Regions from separate parts of the Homo sapiens genome. Here region 2 is linked to region 1. Evidence: fine-mapped expression QTL. Tissue or cell type: whole blood. Region 1 holds a variant in brackets; the other region holds the start of a gene. All regions are shown on one strand. Distances are from middle to middle.

Region 1 (8,000 bases):
TAGATTACCTACAACTCAGCAAACCTATCTATGAATACCTGTAAAATGAATAAAGTTTTCATGTAGGATACAGCAGTAAGCCAAGAATCATTTTAATGAAAATGTCTTAAATATTTAAAATGTCTTAATATTGCCCACTTAGTTCCCAAATCAATTCAGCATATTGCTGAGTCTATATGTGTTTGCTGGCAGATAATATAACCCTAAAAATAAAGGTCCATGTAATCCCAGCACTTTGGGAGGCCGAGGTGGGCGGATCACGAGGTCAAGAGATCGAGACCATCCTGGCCAACATGGTGAAACCCTGTCTCTACTAAAAAATACAAAAATTAGCTGGGCGTGGTGGCATGTGCCTATAGTCCCAGCTACTCAGGAGGCTGAGGCAGGAGAATCACTTGAACCCAGGAGGCAGAGGATGCAGTTGAGCTGAGATCGTGCCACTGCACTCCAGCCTGGCGACAGAGCGAGACTCCGTCTAAAAAAAAAAGTCCATTAGGCATCACCAAATGCATCAAAAACTAAATATTCATTTTTCTGTTGTTGTTAAGCATTCAACAAACCAATGAAACAGGCTACTGATCACTGTACTGGACATTTCAGTTTTGCCTTCAAAGTTCAGATCATTCAATACTTAGTCAGAAACCTGACTTACATTCACTATTGAGGTTCTGGAAATTCAGCTATGCAGTTTAGAAGTTGCATATCTAGAACCTACGTCTACTCAATATAGTAGAGTTTGATGGTTTGGATTACCTTTTTCTAGATATTCTTCCAATCCCCGACGTCGGGCATCTAATTGTTGTTCTGATAATGAAAATGGCCACTTCCCTGGGAGTCGAGGAAATGTAAAGTTGGCAAACTCTCTCTTCAGGTTCTGGTGTAGGATAGCAAACTCCCGGTACCGCTTAGAACACAGCTGCCTCCCTGCCATGTAAACATTATATACCTGGTGAAGGAGAAGAACAAAAGAAAAGCATACTTAATACAAATTAAATCACAAAATCATCTAGTCAGGCTTAGATGATATTGGTTAGATGCATTCTGCTATGCATTTAACAAAGACTATATTCAAGCTCACTTTAAAGTAAGACTTACTTTTGACAAACATGCATAAAGTTATATGCATAAAAAAGGACTACCAAAGGAGCATGATCTTGTTTTTGTTTTTTGGGGTTTTTTTGAGATGGAATCTCACTCTGTTGCCCGGGCTGGAGTGCAGTGGCATGATCTCGGCTCATTGTAACCTCCGCCTCCCGGGTTCAAGCAATTCTCCTGCCTCAGCCTCCTGAATAGCTGGGATTACAGGCATCCGCCACCATACCTGGCTAATTTTTGTATTTTTAGTAGAGAAGGGGTTTCACCATGTTGGCCAGGCTGGTCTCGACCTCTTGACCTCAGGTGATCCACCCACCTTGAACCACCGCACCCAGCAGGAGGAGTGTGATCTTATTTTTGCTATTAAAATGACCTCTAGCATACTTTTAAATATCTTCAAAGGCAATTATCAGTTTTTAAGGTGGATTTTATTTTCAGAAAGTTAAAAGTCATTTGAAGCCAATGTGGTAAATATAGTGAGTCAATAAGCAAGCAAATTTGAAGGGAGCTGAAAACCTAGGGTTGATTATAAAGCAATGTAACTGATACTCGTGTGTGGCCTAAACTGGCTCTAAAGTTGATTCCAAAGAAAAGGCCTAAAAATGATGTAAGCGGCCTGGGCACGGTGGCTCACGTCTGTGATTCCAGCACACTTTGTGAGGCTGACAGGCAGGCAGATTGCTTGAGTCCAAGAGTTCAAGACCAGCCTGGGCAACATGGTGAAACCCTGTCTCTACAAAAAAATACAAAAATGAAGCTGGGCATGGTGGCATGCGCCTGTAGTCCCAGGAGGCTAAGGTGGGAGGATTGTTTGAATCCAGGAGGCAGAGGAAGCAGTGAGCCACGATCCTGCCACTACACTCCAGCCTGGACAATAGAAGGACACACTGTCTCAAAAAAACAAAATGATTTCAGCAACAGTGGAATTTTTGTTAGTTCCTTAAGCAGATAATGTGAAAAGCAAAATAAAAGCTAAGCTAAGATCTTGAAAATAATTTACTTTACACCATATAGTCTCCGCCTCCTCTATTCCACATCCTTATGTCCCTGTTTCTCTGACCGCAAAAAGTTATCATATCCAACCATGTTCATGATTCCCTTGCTTTTCTTTTTATATATTTTTTGCATTTATATATAATCCTTAAATTTTTATTTTTATTCTAATTTTAAAGGATATTTTGGTTTTATAAAAATAGAGTATCAAGATGAATGATACTTCAAAGGACTTACTTTTTTCAGTTAATATTATACTATAGTTTCATCACAACATTATATGTCTTTGTGGTATACTCTGCTGCATACAGCATTTTGTTGTGTGAATATATCATAGTTGCTCGTTTGTTTTTAATCTGTTCTCCCACTCATGAGCACTTGGGTTGTTTCTGGATTTTAGCTACCGTGAATAATGCTGCCATTGACATTTGTATAAATGCCTCCTGCTGTACATGCAAAAGATATTCTTCTGAGTACAACCCTGAGTGAACTGCAGAGTTATATGCATATTCAACCTCAGGAGATAATGCCGAAATGTAAGCTAAAGTGGTTGTACCAATTTATTCTCTTTCAGCAATATATAAAAAGATCCTCTTAATTTTGCCAATGGAATTGGTGTGAAAAGATTTCTGTGATCCTAATTACTAATGATGTTTAATATCTCTTCATATACTTATTGACCATGTGAGTGTCATTTTTTGTAAAGTACCTACTCATGCGTTTTGCCTACCTTCATATTAAGTTTTTTGGCTTTTCTTATTGATTTGATTTATGGAGTTCTTTATATATTGACATAATCTGTTTCATTTGTGTGTATTGTGAATATCTTCTTCCAGTTTGTCACTGGTCTTTTTTTTTTTTTTTTTTTTGAGACGGAGTCTCGCTCTGTCACCCAGGCTAAGAGTGCAGTGGCACGATGTCTGCTCACTGCAAGCTCCGCCCCCCGGGTTCACGCCATTCTCCTGCCTCTGCCTCCCAAGTAGCTGAGACTACAGGCACCCACCACCATGGCCGGCTAATTTTTTGTATTTTTAGTAGAGACGGGGTTTCACCGTGTTAGCCAGGATGGTCTGGATCTCTTGAGCTCGTGATCCACCCGCCTCGGCCTCCCAAAGTGCTGGGATTACAGGTGTGAGACCCGTGTCCGGCCAAGAGCTTTTAATTTTTTGTTTTGTCATTTAAGTCCTTAATCCATCTGGAACTTATTCCTCTATATAATATGAAGTAGAGTTCCACTGGCATTTCTTTTAAAGCCAAGAATATTTAAAATCAACTTTTAATCAAATCATCCCTAAATAAAAAACATTCTCCATTTATAGAACAATCTGTGGACTTCCAGGTGGTAATTAACCTCCCATTAAATACAACCAGAAAACTGGACACAATGTAGGCAACAACTATTTTCAGACACTGGACAACAGGCAGCTAAGAACGGTGATCCCTGAGAAAAGGGAAGCAAACAAGATGATCCCTAACATAATCTCAGCTTTCTGCCTAGAGGTAACTCCTAAACTGCAGCTCAGGGAGGGGTACCCAAACAGAGTTTGGCAACTTCACTGAGTTGAATAAACAGAAACTGAAGTTCGAGGAGGCCAAAGCAGCTACAATTTGCAGGACTAATCATGCAAGAGGGAGCTAAAGCAAGACATAGCTCCAGAAATCTGTATTAAGTTCCCTTGAATTTTGACTGAATAACGATCTAAGGAAAGAACTATTATCAGCCGGGAGCAGTAAATAAACAATTCCCAGAGTTCACACAGGTTATGGAATCATTCAACTTCCCTCCAGCCAGAATAAAGAGACCTCCCTAAATCTGCATGGAATTTAGAAGGGAACTCAAAAAGACCATGCTTTAGGAATGGAGCTAAATTGGTTCTAGAGTAAAAGGTACTCTAAACTACTCAAAAAGAGCTTAAAAACAAAGCTAAAAAGGACCAAAGTAATCTTTAAGTAGCTTAACTGTATGCCAGGAGAAAAAAAAAAATTCCAACACTCTTTAAAGAAATGTAACAAAATCTAGCACCCAATCACACTGCATTCACAATATACAATATCCAATCAAAAATTACTAGACATATAAAAAAGCATGAAAATTTGACCTATGACCAGGATAAAAATTAGTCAGTAGAAACAGGCTCAGAAGTTACCAAGACAAAAGAATCAGTAGACAAGGACATTAAGCAGCTATCATATATTAAGAAGTGGGATTACGAAGTGTATTAAGAAGTGGGATCTTTAAGAGGTAATGGCAAAACTCTCGTGATTAATGTCATTATTGAGGCAGTGGGTTATTTATCTCAGGAGTTTGGGCCCCATTTGCTCTCTGTCTCACATGCACTTCCCCACCAGGGAATGCCTTCCTTCATGTTATAACACAACAGAAAGGCCTTCACCAGATGTGGCCCCTTGATATTAGACTTCTCAGGCTCTAGAACTGTAAGCCAAATCACTTTTCTTTATAAATGACCTACAATCTGTGTTATTCTATTAAAGCAGTGAAAACAGGCTAAGACAGGCAGTAAATCCTCTCATTCAGAGTGCACAGGCAAAGATCCACTTCTTCAGGGGAAGGAGTAAAAGTAAAATACTCTATA[C/T]CCCTGGGGAGAGGCAGGAAACCATATTAGGCCCAGGTTCCTCCACTGTTACCAAGCAGAGGTCGGCTATAGCTGAGGGAGGGACAGGAAACGCTTTCCCAAGACTAACCACAGATACAAGGCCGAGTTTGGCTGCAATAAGAAGGAAGGGCAAAAGAATCAGGACACAGAGACACAGATTCTGCCTAAGACTAAGGGTGAACTACACAACATCTACCTCTACCATGAGTCTAGCCCAAGTAAAAAGCAAGAGTAGTCTACCAGTAGCAGAGGGGTAAGAATGTAAAGAGAGAACTTGTCTGTGGTACTGGTATGCACAGGTGGCTGAAAGCCTGAGGACAAAACACTGAAAAAAACCCTCCAGGGTCGGCCGGGCACGGTGGCTCACGCCTGTAATCCCAGCACTTTGGGAGTCCAAGACGGGTGGATCACGAGGTCAAAAGATCAAGACTATCCCAGCCAACATGCTGAAACTCCATCTCTACTAAAAATACAAAAATTAGCTTGGCGTGGTGGTGTGCGCCTGTAGTCCCAACTACTAGGGAGGATGAGGCAGGAGAATCACTTGAACCCAGGAGGTGGAGGTTGCAGTGAGCCAAGATCGCGCCACTGCACTCCAGCCTGGTGGCAGAGCAAGACTCCATCTCAAAAAAAAAAAAAAACAAAAAAAACTCTCCAGGCTGGGCACAGTGGCTCTTGTCTATAATCCCAGCACTTTGGGAGGCCAAGGCAGGAGGATCACTTGAGCCCAGGATTTTGAGACCAGCCTGAACAAAATAGTGGGACTCTGTCTCTACAAAAAGTAAAAAAAAAATTAGCCAGATGTGATGACGTGTGCTTGTGGTCCCAGCTACTTGGTAGGCTGAAGCAGGAGGAATGCTTAAGCCAGGAAGTCAAGGCTGCAAAGAGCCATTATTGTGCAACTGCACTCCAGTCTGAGTGATAGAAGGAGAGCTTGTCTCAAAAAACAAAAAATAAATAAATTTAAAAACCTTCAGAACCCCAGCCCTCACTCTAAGCACAAGGTAATAGCAACCCATTGCTAGAGAAACTTGAGGCCTATGGCACAGTAAAGGTAATGATAGCTATAACAAAATTCAAGCCCAGCTTAACTGACTACATTCCCTAACAGAAGAGTATTGCCCATTTCCAAGTTGAAACACTATTTACTTCAGTCATCTCTACTATTATTCCACACATGATGCTTGACATTGTTAAATATTACAGAACAAAAATGGAAAACAAACAAACAAACAACAACAACAAAAAAAAAGGCTGGGTGCGGTGGCTCACACCTGTAATCCCAGCATTTTGGGAGGCCAAGGCGGGTGATCACCTGAGATCAGGAGTTCAAGACCAGCCTGACCAACATGGAGAAACCCTGTCTCTACTAAAAATACAAAATTAGCCAGGCATGGTGGCACATGCCTGTAATTCGAGCTACTCAGGAGGCTGAGGCAGGAGAACTGCTTGAACCTGGGAGGCGGAGGTTGCAGTGGGCCAAGATCGAGCCATTGTACTCCAGCTTGGGCAACAAGAGCAAATCTCCATCTCAAAAAAAAAAAAAAAAAGAAACCCAACATTATGTCAAGAGATAAAACAGTCTCAGAGATGACCCAGATGTTGAAATTATCAGGCAGCATATTATTAGAATAACCGTGATTAACAATGCTAAAGATCTCATGCAAAAGGAAAAGGCAGAAAACATGTATGAACAGATACAGAATTTCAGCAGGTGTGAAAATTACAAGCAAATAACAAATGAAAGTGACAGAAATAAAACGCATGGGCTGGGCGCAGTGGCTCACGCCTGTAATTCCAGCACTTTGGGAGGTCGAGGCGGGTGGATCACAACGTCAGGAGTTCGAGACCAGCCTGGCCAATATGGTGAAATGCTGTCTCTACTAAAAAAAAATACAAAAATTAGCCAGGCGTGGTAGCGGCTGCCTGTAGTCCCAGCTACTCGGGAGGCTAAGGCAGGAGAATTGCGTGAACTTGGGAGGCGGAGGTTGCAGTGAGCCGAGATCACACCACTGCACTCCAGCCTAGGTGACAGAGCAAGGCTCCGTCTGAGGAAAAAAAAAAAAAAAAAAAAGGCGTGGTATCAAAAATGAAGAGTTCCTCTAACAGTCTCATCAGCAGACTGGACACAGCTGAGGAAAAAATCAGCAAACTTAATGATAGGTCCATAAAAATTATCTAAAGAGAAAAATTAGATTAAGATTCAGTTTCCTCTCCCTCTCCCTCTCCGTCTCCCTCTCCCTCTCCCTCTCCCTCTCCCTCTCCCTCTCCCCACGGTCTCCCTCTCCCTCTCTTTCCACGGTCTCCCTCTCATGCGGAGCCGAAGCTGGACTGTACTGCTGCCATCTCGGCTCACTGCAACCTCCCTGCCTGATTCTCCTGACTCAGCCTGCCGAGTGCCTGCGATTGCAGGCTCGCGCCGCCACACCTGACTGGTTTTGGTGGAGACGGGGTTTCGCTGTGTTGGCCGAGCTGGTCTCCAGCCCCTAACCGCAAGTGATCCGCCAGCCTCGGCCTCCCCAGGTGCCGGGATTGCAGACGGAGTCTCGTTCACTCAGTGCTCAATGGTGCCCAGGCTGGAGTGCAGTGGCGTGATCTCGGCTCGCTACAACCTCCACCTCCCAGCCGCCTGCCTTGGCCTCCCAAAGTGCCGAGATTGCAGCCTCTGCCCGGCCGCCACCCCGTCTGGGAAGTGAGGAGCGTCTCTGCCTGGCCGCCCATCATCTGGGATGTGAGGAGCCCCTCTGCCTGGCTGCCCAGTCTGGAAAGTGAGGAGCATCTCCGCCCAGCCGCCATCCCATCTAGGAAGTGAGGAGCATCTCTGCCCGGCCACCCATCGTCTGAGATGTGGGGAGCGCCTCTGCCCCGCCGCCCCGTCTGGGATGTGAGGAGCACCTCTGCCTGGCCGCGACCCCGTCTGGGAGGTGAGGAGCATCTCTGCCCGGCCGCCCCGTCTGAGAAGTGAGGAGACCCTCTGCCCGGCAACCGCCTCGTCTGAGAAGTGAGGAGCCCCTCTGCCCGGCAGCCGCCCCATCTGGGAAGTGAGGAGCGTCTCCGCCCGGCAGCCACCCCGTCCGGGAGGGAGGTGGGGGGGGTCAGCCCCCCGCCAGGCCAGCCGCCCCATCCGGGAGGGAGGTGGGGGGGGTCAGCCCCCCGCCCCGCCAGCCGCCCCATCTGGGAGGGAGGTAGGGGGGTCAGCCTCCCGCCAGGCCAGCCGCCCCGTCTGGGAGGGAGGTCGGGGGGTCAGCCCCCCGCCCGGCCAGCCGCCCCGCCCGGGAGGTGAGGGGCGCCTCTGCC
Region 2 (8,173 bases), 44 kb after region 1:
ATTAGCATCAACCTAACCAAGATCGAGACAAGTAGCGGGCACAGATATCCCTCAAGAACCACATCTATTTGGTTGCTGATTTCCCCTCTCACTTGAAACCCTAAAGAGAAGGCGCAGACTATCGAAGAAAGGAAGAAAAAAAAAAAGAAAAGAGAAAGACACTGTATAGTTGGGGTCTCACAGAATGTACCACTAGCTTGGCTTTGGGCTGTAATTATCATTACTTCCCCTATAGTACCAAAGAAGGTTCAGAGAATTTGGAAATCAAAATACAGATAGTTGGAAGAGTGAGAAACCAATGCCAGGAAGATTTCTGATTATCACAACCTTCCAGAGAGGTCTTCTAGGCAGAGTATTCTTTTCCCCTGCCCACTAAAAGTGACAAAGTTCTCTACTTACCACAAAGGATGTGCCAAAAAGTAATGTTTTTTCTCTAGAAGGCAAAGATTTCCCAGCTTCCTAGTCTGGAACCTGAGCCTAAGGCAAGTCCTTCTACCTTTCCTAGGGGATTATCTGAGGTCTCCTTTACAGTTTATACCTAGGCTCTTGGGCAGAAGCCACAATAAAGGCAAGAAGCCACTAACTATGTATGTTGGGATGTGTGCGTGTATCTGCAAAGATAGATCATATTAACTATAGTCTCCTACAGAATTATTCTTTTTGGTTTAGTTCCTTTAGATCCTGTGAAGAGTAAATAATGTAGAACTTCATCATAAATTTATAATTATAAATGCTTTAGTTTTAAATTTAAAAATAAGAAGCTGAGTCCAAAATTAACTTCCAAAGGGAAAGGAAAGTGACAATTCTGAGACCTTCTATTGGAAGAAAACATCAGCCACAAATTTTGAGTTATCTAGAAAGAAAATAATTAGGTGCCCAAGTATAAGAAATCTGAAAGTCATTATTGTAATCCCAGCACTTTGGGAGGCCGAGGCGGGCGGATCACCTGAGGTCAGGAGTTTCAGACCAGCCTGGCCAACATGGTGAAACCCGTCTCTACTAAAAATACAAAATTAGCTGGTCATGATGACACATGCCTGTAATCCCAGCTACTCAGGAGGCTGAGGCAGGAGAATCGCTTGAACCCGGGAGGCGGAGGTTGCAGTGAGCCGAGATCGCGCCACTGCACTCCAGCCTGGGTGACGATCAAAACTCCATCTCAAGGAAAAAAAAAGAATATATTGTCAGACAATACTAGGAATACTAGGAAACAGTATGTAGGACATTAATGAAACAAGAAAGCATCTATTTACAGAAAGGACAGAGGAAAGGTATACTGTCTCCAAACACTGGCCTAGGTGAGCAACTATTTCTTTTTTTTTTTTTCAATCAACTCTCCCAGGTTAAAACCAACCATTTCTTGAGGTGGAAGAGGTGAGGAAACAGAATGAGTGGACACCATGGAGTTAAGAATGTCAAGGATAAGGGTAGATGGCACGAGATGAGTAAGAAGGAATGGATTTCTCTATAAGGCAGATTTTCAAAAAACTATCCCTTTTGCAAACCTACTGTTTTACAAGAGGCAACAGAAGGTTGCGGAAATTACAATTAAAATTTATAAAAAATGAGAACGATTTCAAGTGGGCAAATCGAAATATGGAGGGAGAGAGTAAAAGTGTAAAAAAGGAATGCACAACATAGATTCAGTAAGCAGAAACACAGCACTGAAGACTGCTGAGGAGAACGGAGACAACGCGAGCACACACCACCTGCAAGTCAACCGGCAATCACTATCCGAATTTCAATACGAAGTACAAAAAGGCAAATGTAACACCTAGATTAGGGTAATGGAGGCGGTGTGCACAGAGATTGCAAGACAAGGCAGCATCCCGCAAGAGCATGGAGGGATGTGGTGGGGGAGGCGTATGAAGGGGGAGGGACTGCAGCAGGGGAGAGAGGGTGGGCTGCAGCAGCAGAAGGCGCCTTAAAAAACAGAAGAAAGGAAAAGCAGCCTAGGGGAGGGAAAGACTAGGACAAAGTCAAGTGTGGGATCACAGGAGGATAGAGTAGAAGAGGCAGCAGAGACGGGCATGCCCTAAAAAAGCAAAGCGGTCAAAGACCCAAAAAGGGCTTGAAGTAGTTTTGAAGGAGGAGGAGTTACAAGGGGTCTACCATAAACCTGACTAGGAGGAGGCATGAGTATAGAGCAGGAGTGAAGGCAGGAGGCCAGGGAAGGGATGCTCTCAGAGGGGTGTGCTGATGGAGACGCTAGATTCCAAATTAGGGTGTGATACGGGGCCAACCGAGAAGAGAAACTACGGTGTCAAATCCCACGCCCCCCACCCCAAAGGCATGCAAGGGTCAGAAAGCAAGGTAAACTCTTGGAGTAGAAATACAAAAAGGAGGGGAGGAAAGGGGCACACGGTGGGATGGAAAAATTTAGGGGCAGCGTAACCATGAGGAGAGGGTAACTAAGGAAAGAAAAAGGAGACGAGCGGGGAGGGATGGTGTTTCCGGAGGAAAAGTAGGAGCAGACCAGAGGTCCTGCCTACTTGGTCTGGAGGGCAGAAGGGGCAGTCCACGGGGGCGGAGGGGAGTGGTGGAGAACGAAACTGCGATGCTGAAGATGAGAACTTGGGGGGGACACGGTACTGGCTGGATCAGAAAACGAAACGCCGTCAGTAAGGAGCAGATGAGGTTCCTTCTGAGCAAGACGAGGGGGAGTGAGGAGCAGAATGCAGCACGCCAAACGGGAAGGCAAAGGGGCGGAGAAGAGCCCAGAGTAATCGGGGCACAGGGAGGAGCACTGGGGGCGCAAGGGCATCAGCTGGAGACGACGGGGTGGGAGACCGGCGTCGCAGAAGCCCCGGGGCGGGTGGTGGGAGGGCAGCCCACAAGGAGGGGCCCGGCTGCGGAGGCCTGAGGGGCGGGGGTCCGGAGGCCGGCTCGGAGCTCGGGGGAGGTGCGGCCTGGGGGTGACAAGGGTAGCGAGGAGTGCAGGGGCAGGAGGGGCGCGGGGAGGATGGGGCGGCGGGTAGCCCCGATACTCACACCTCCAGGATGCGGTCCCCCTTGCGCACCCCGGCCCGATCGGCCGCCCCCCCGGGCAGCACGGCGCTCACATGCTGCAGCGGCGCGTACAGCTCCCCGTTGATGCTCCGCAGTTGCCCGCCCTCGCTCACTTGGCCCCGCACGTTGAAGCCGTAGCCGGACTCGGACTTGACGATGCGCACGACCCGCGGGCCGCCGCCTCCCCCGCCGCCGTTCCCGGCGCAGTGGAGCCCAGACCCCCCGCCGCCGCCGCCACCTCCGTTCCTGTGAGGGGCTGAGGGATGAATCCCTTCCCCGTCCTCGTCCGCCATCTTGCGAGCAGGCGAGCCGTACCCCCGCCCCCTACGCCTCCAAGGCCTCCCGGCGCGTGCTCGCCCTGCCTGGCAGCCGGACGACCCCCGACGCGCGCGCCCGATCCGCCGGCCGCGGGACCGACTCGGCCACCGAGCTGCTGGCGCGGGGTGAAGAGGAGGCAGGGGGCGGGCGAAAAGCGGACAATCGGGCACCGTGGGGCCTCCTGGGAGATGTAGTTTATGGGTGGCGGGGGCGGGGAGCGGTCTGGGCCTGGGCCTGAGCCGAGGTTATAAGACGCAGTTCGGAAGCAAGGCCTGCCGGGAGTTGTAGTTTATCTTTCATGCTGGGTTAGGAGTTTGATCTGCTGGGTGGGGAGAGTATAACCCAGCACCCAGCGTGGTAAAATGATTCAGTTCTTGATGCGGACCAAGTTTTTCGCCCCCCCCCCTTTCATTTCATAACCTCTAAAAAACAATAATGTTAGAATAACTTAACGTTTGTGATTCAACACAGTCTTAAATTATATCAACTCATTTTTTGGCACAGTAACTTATATGTTGACCAGGGCCCAACAACCTGTGAGGCAACCGGATCACGATTAGCTTCCCTATTTTACGTTATTAGGAAACAACCTTAGAGTGCTCAAAGTCATCCAGCTACTAAGTATCAGGAACTAAGGCCCAGTTATTGTGCAACTTTCTTGTCCTGTATTGCAACTACAGTCATGTGCCACATAAGGACATTTTGGTCTACAATGGACTGCAAACACGAGGGAGGCCCCCTAAGATGATAATGGAGCTGAAAAATGTCTATCACCTAGTGGCACAGTAGCCACCATAAGGTCATAGCACAAGCATTACTCACATGTTTGGAGTGATGCTGGTGTTAACAAACCTGCACTGCCAGTCATGTGAAAGTATAGCACATATGATTATGTACAGTACATAATACTTGATAATGGTAAGAACTATGTTACTAGTTTATGAATTCACTGTAGTTTTTATCACTATTTTAGAGTGTACTCCTTCTACTTTTTTTTTTAAGTTAACTGTAAAGCAGCCTCAGGCAGGTCCTTCAGAAGGTATTCTAGGTATTCTAAGTATTGTGATTTTTTTCCACGTATTCCAAGTATTGTGTTTTTTTGTTTTGTTTTGTTTTTTTGTTTTTTTTTTTTTTAAGATGGAGTTTCGCTCTTATCGCCCAGGCTGGAATGCAATGGCACGATATCGGCTCACCGCAACCTCTGCCTCCCAGGTTCAAGTGATTCTCCTGCCTCAGCCTCCCAAATCCCTTGCGATTAAACGCATGCGCCACCATGCCTGGCTAATTTTTTGGTATTTTTAGTAGAGACAGGGTTTCACCATGTTGGCCAAGCTGGTCTCGAACTCCTGACCTCAGGTGATCCAACCACCTCAGCCTCCCAAAGTGCTGGGATTACAGGTGTGAGCCACTGTGCCTGGCCCCAGTTATTGTTACCATCAGATGACAGCTCTGTGCATGTTATTACCCATGAAGACCTTCCAGTGAGACAAGAGATGGAGGTGGAAGACAGTGAAATTGATGATCCAGATCTGGTGTAGGCATAGGCTATGTTTGTGTTTAAGTCTTAGTTTTTAACCAAAAAAAAAAGTTTAAAACATAAAATTAAAAATTGCCTTAAATAGAAAAAAAGCTTATGGAATAAAGATATAAAGAAAGAAAATATTTTGTACATCTGTACAATGTGTTTGTGTTTTAAGCTAACTGTTATTACAAAAGAGTCCCCCCAAATTTTTAAAGGCTGGGTGTGGTGGCTCATGCCTGTAATACCAGCACTTTGGGAGACCGAGGTGGGAGGATTCCTTGAGCCCAGGAGTTCAAGACCAAACTGGGCAACATAGTGAGACCCCATCTCAACAAAAAATAAAAAATTAGCTGGTGGCTGAGCGAGACTATATCTAAAAAAAAAAAAAAAGCAGCTGGGCATGATGGCACATACCTGTAGTCCCAGCTACTTAGGAGGTTTAGGTGGGAGGATCGCTTCAGCCTAGGAGGTCAAGGCTGCAGAGAGCTGAGATCACACCACTGTACTCCAGCCTGACCATCAGAGTGAGATCCTGTCTCCAAAAAACAAAGATGAGATCTCACAAAATATGGGATGAGGACTCAAAGTCATTATAATTAGAACATAAAAATTAATATGACCTTATTTTACAACCAAGCTAATGAAGAAGGATCTTGACTAGTTACACAATAAAGTTGATATAAGAGTTTTGCTCCAAAATAATAGTGGCATTTGGATTGAATATGAATAATTTGGTTTGAACTGAGCACTGGATGGGGAAAGCAAGGCATCAGAGAAAGGAAAAAGAAGGGAGCCTCCCCTAAAAGAGTTATTTTTTCATTGGTTTATTAGATAAAAATATACTGAATGCCTACTCTGAATTAGATAAAAATATACTGAATGTCCCCGAAAGGCAACAGGACATGGTCAAACTTACAAATACACATATTCCTCAAACTGAAGGCGATTCCACTTCCAGGAGTTCATTCTACTGTTACACTTGCACATGTGTGAAGTGATGTTTTTATGAAGTTAAGTCATTGCAGCATTGTTTGTATTCACAAAAGACTGAAAACAACCTAATGTTTATTTGTTAAATCATAATGTATCCACAATGGAAAATTGAATCAATGTAAACACAGAATAAGGAAGCTCTGTATGCACTTATATGGAATGATCATATCATCAATACTATATATGATTTGGTGAAAACAAAGTGCAGCACAATCTATACAACATGATACTATTTGTATATAAAACGGGAACCATGGGCCAGGCACGGTGGCTCACGCCTGTAATCCCAACACTTTGGGAGGCCGAGGTGGGTGGATCACCTGAGGTCAGGAGTTTGAGACCAGCCTGGCTAACATGGCGAAACCCCGTCTCCACTAAAAATACAAAAATTAGCCGGGTGTGGTGGTGCACACCTGTAGTCCCAGCTACTCGGGAGGCTGAGGCAGAAGAATCACTTGAACCCGGGAGGTGGAGGTTGCAGTGAGCTGAGATTGTGCCACTGCACTCCAGCCTGGGCAACAGAGCAAGACTCTGTCTCAAAAACAAACAAAACAAAACAAATACAAAAATTAGCCGGGCATAATGGCAGGTGCCTGTATTCATCAGAAGGCTGAGGCAGGAGAATCGCTTGAACCTGGGAGGTGGAGGTTGCAGTGAGCCAAGATCACGCCACTGCACTCCAGCCTGGCGACAGAGCAAGACTCCATCTAAAAAGATAATAATAAAATAAAAGGGAACCATATATATTTTTATATCTTTAGAAGTATTCACAAGAAATTGATAACACTGATTGCTGCTGGGGAGGGAGACTGGATAGCTAGGGTGTCAGAGGCGGGGACAGGGGTAGGAGAGAGACTTTTCACTTTATACCTTTATGTAACTTCTGAATTTTCAGTCACATGAGTGTTGCCTATTCAAAAAATAAATTTAAAAATATTTAGAAAGGATCAGGTTGGAAGAAAAGATGATCAGAGCATTAAAATAACAAAAGAAAATAAGACACCATTACTGCTGGTGAGAATTCACAATCTAGCAGGAGAGAAAACAAAAAACCATTGCAATAGAGCATGATGAGAGCTGTGAGGAGAGTCCTGCACAAGCTGCTAGGATTGCACATCGGAGGGACTTCCACGTATCCAGAGGGAGGAGTTAGGGAAGATGACTCACGAAATGGGAGAGCTGAGCTAAGTGATTACAGATGAGAAGAGTTAGCAATTGCGGCAGAGAAGGATAGTGGTGGAAGGGCATTTCTGACAAAGGAAACAGCATATTCAAACACACAGAGATTTGAAAGAACACAGTACAGTGTGAGACCACACAGTTCAGTAGGACTGGAGCAGAGGAGACAGGAAGTGGACAGGGGAGGTGGGCAAGAGTCAGATCCAGGAGGGCTTAAAATATCGAATATCGGCCGGGCGCTGTGGCTCACGCCTGTAATCCCGGCACTTTGGGAGGCCGAGGTGGGCGGATCACGAGGTCAGGAGATCGAGACCATCCTGGCTAACATGGTGAAACCCCTTCTCTACTAAAAATACAAAAAATAAAAAATAAAAAAATTAGCCGGGCATGGTGGCGGGCACCCGTAGTCCCAGCTACTCGGGAGGCTGAGGCAGGAGAATGGCGTGAACCTAGGAGGCAGAGCTTGCAGTGAGCCGAGATTGCGCCACTGCACTCCAGCCTGGGCAACAGAGCAAGACTCTGTCTCAAAAAAAAAAAAAATCAAATATCATGCCCAGGAGTTTGAATTTCATTCCTTATTAGTGAGGGGCCTCTGATTGCTTTTAAGCAGAGCACAGGCATTCACAAATCTGTGCTTCAAAAAGTTCATGCTGCAGGATGTGTGGAGAATGAAGTCAGATAGAAAGATCAGTTATGAAGCATTTGCAGTGATTCCAGTGGGAATTAATGAGGTGCCAACTAGGGCAGTAGTGGTGGGAATACAAGGAGGGGGATGCACAGGAGAGAAGGGACTTGGTGACCACTAGGATCTCAGGTGCAAAGGTAGGGGAGGAAGGAATGACATAAGATTCCTGACATGGTGATGTGATTCCCCAAGACATGGCATAAAAAGGAAGCGGAAGAGGTTTGCAGGGAAAATTAATTTAATTTGTTTAAATTTGTTTGATTTAAACAAGAAGAAGATTAGTTTAATTTGGGGCCTTTGGGAAAGCCCAGAGGAATTGTCCAACAACTGGTTGAACACATGAGTGTGGACCTGGGGAAAGGAGTCTGGGCCAGAACTTAGATTTGGGAGCCATCAGCCCTGGGTGGTGGTAGATGAGAACCCCAAAACATACTGTGCAGTCAGATGAGAAGAGTGCCAAGTCCAGA

What was found. PIP is the estimated chance that this variant, and not a neighbour inherited with it, causes the effect.
Region 2: SNX27 starts here. The variant in region 1 is fine-mapped to the expression of SNX27 in whole blood (TOPMed, PIP 0.91).

What each region holds. Positions count from the first base shown.
Region 1 is chr1:151,651,181-151,659,180 of GRCh38, reverse strand. It overlaps SNX27 (sorting nexin 27), which reads right to left. Exons shown (of 12, transcript NM_001330723.2): 3 at 754-946. Among named protein-coding and RNA genes, the nearest start is that of SNX27, 43 kb to the right of the region's middle. The variant C/T (reference allele first, on the strand shown) is at 4,683.
Region 2 is chr1:151,607,331-151,615,503 of GRCh38, reverse strand. It overlaps SNX27 (sorting nexin 27), which reads right to left and starts at 3,454. Exons shown (of 12, transcript NM_001330723.2): 1 at 2,992-3,454. The coding sequence starts at 3,302. It overlaps LOC124904420 (a long non-coding RNA gene), which reads left to right and starts at 2,136. Exons shown (of 2, transcript XR_007066622.1): 1 at 2,136-2,313; 2 at 3,105-4,987. RefSeq lists a silencer at 3,099-3,538 and an enhancer at 3,579-3,678.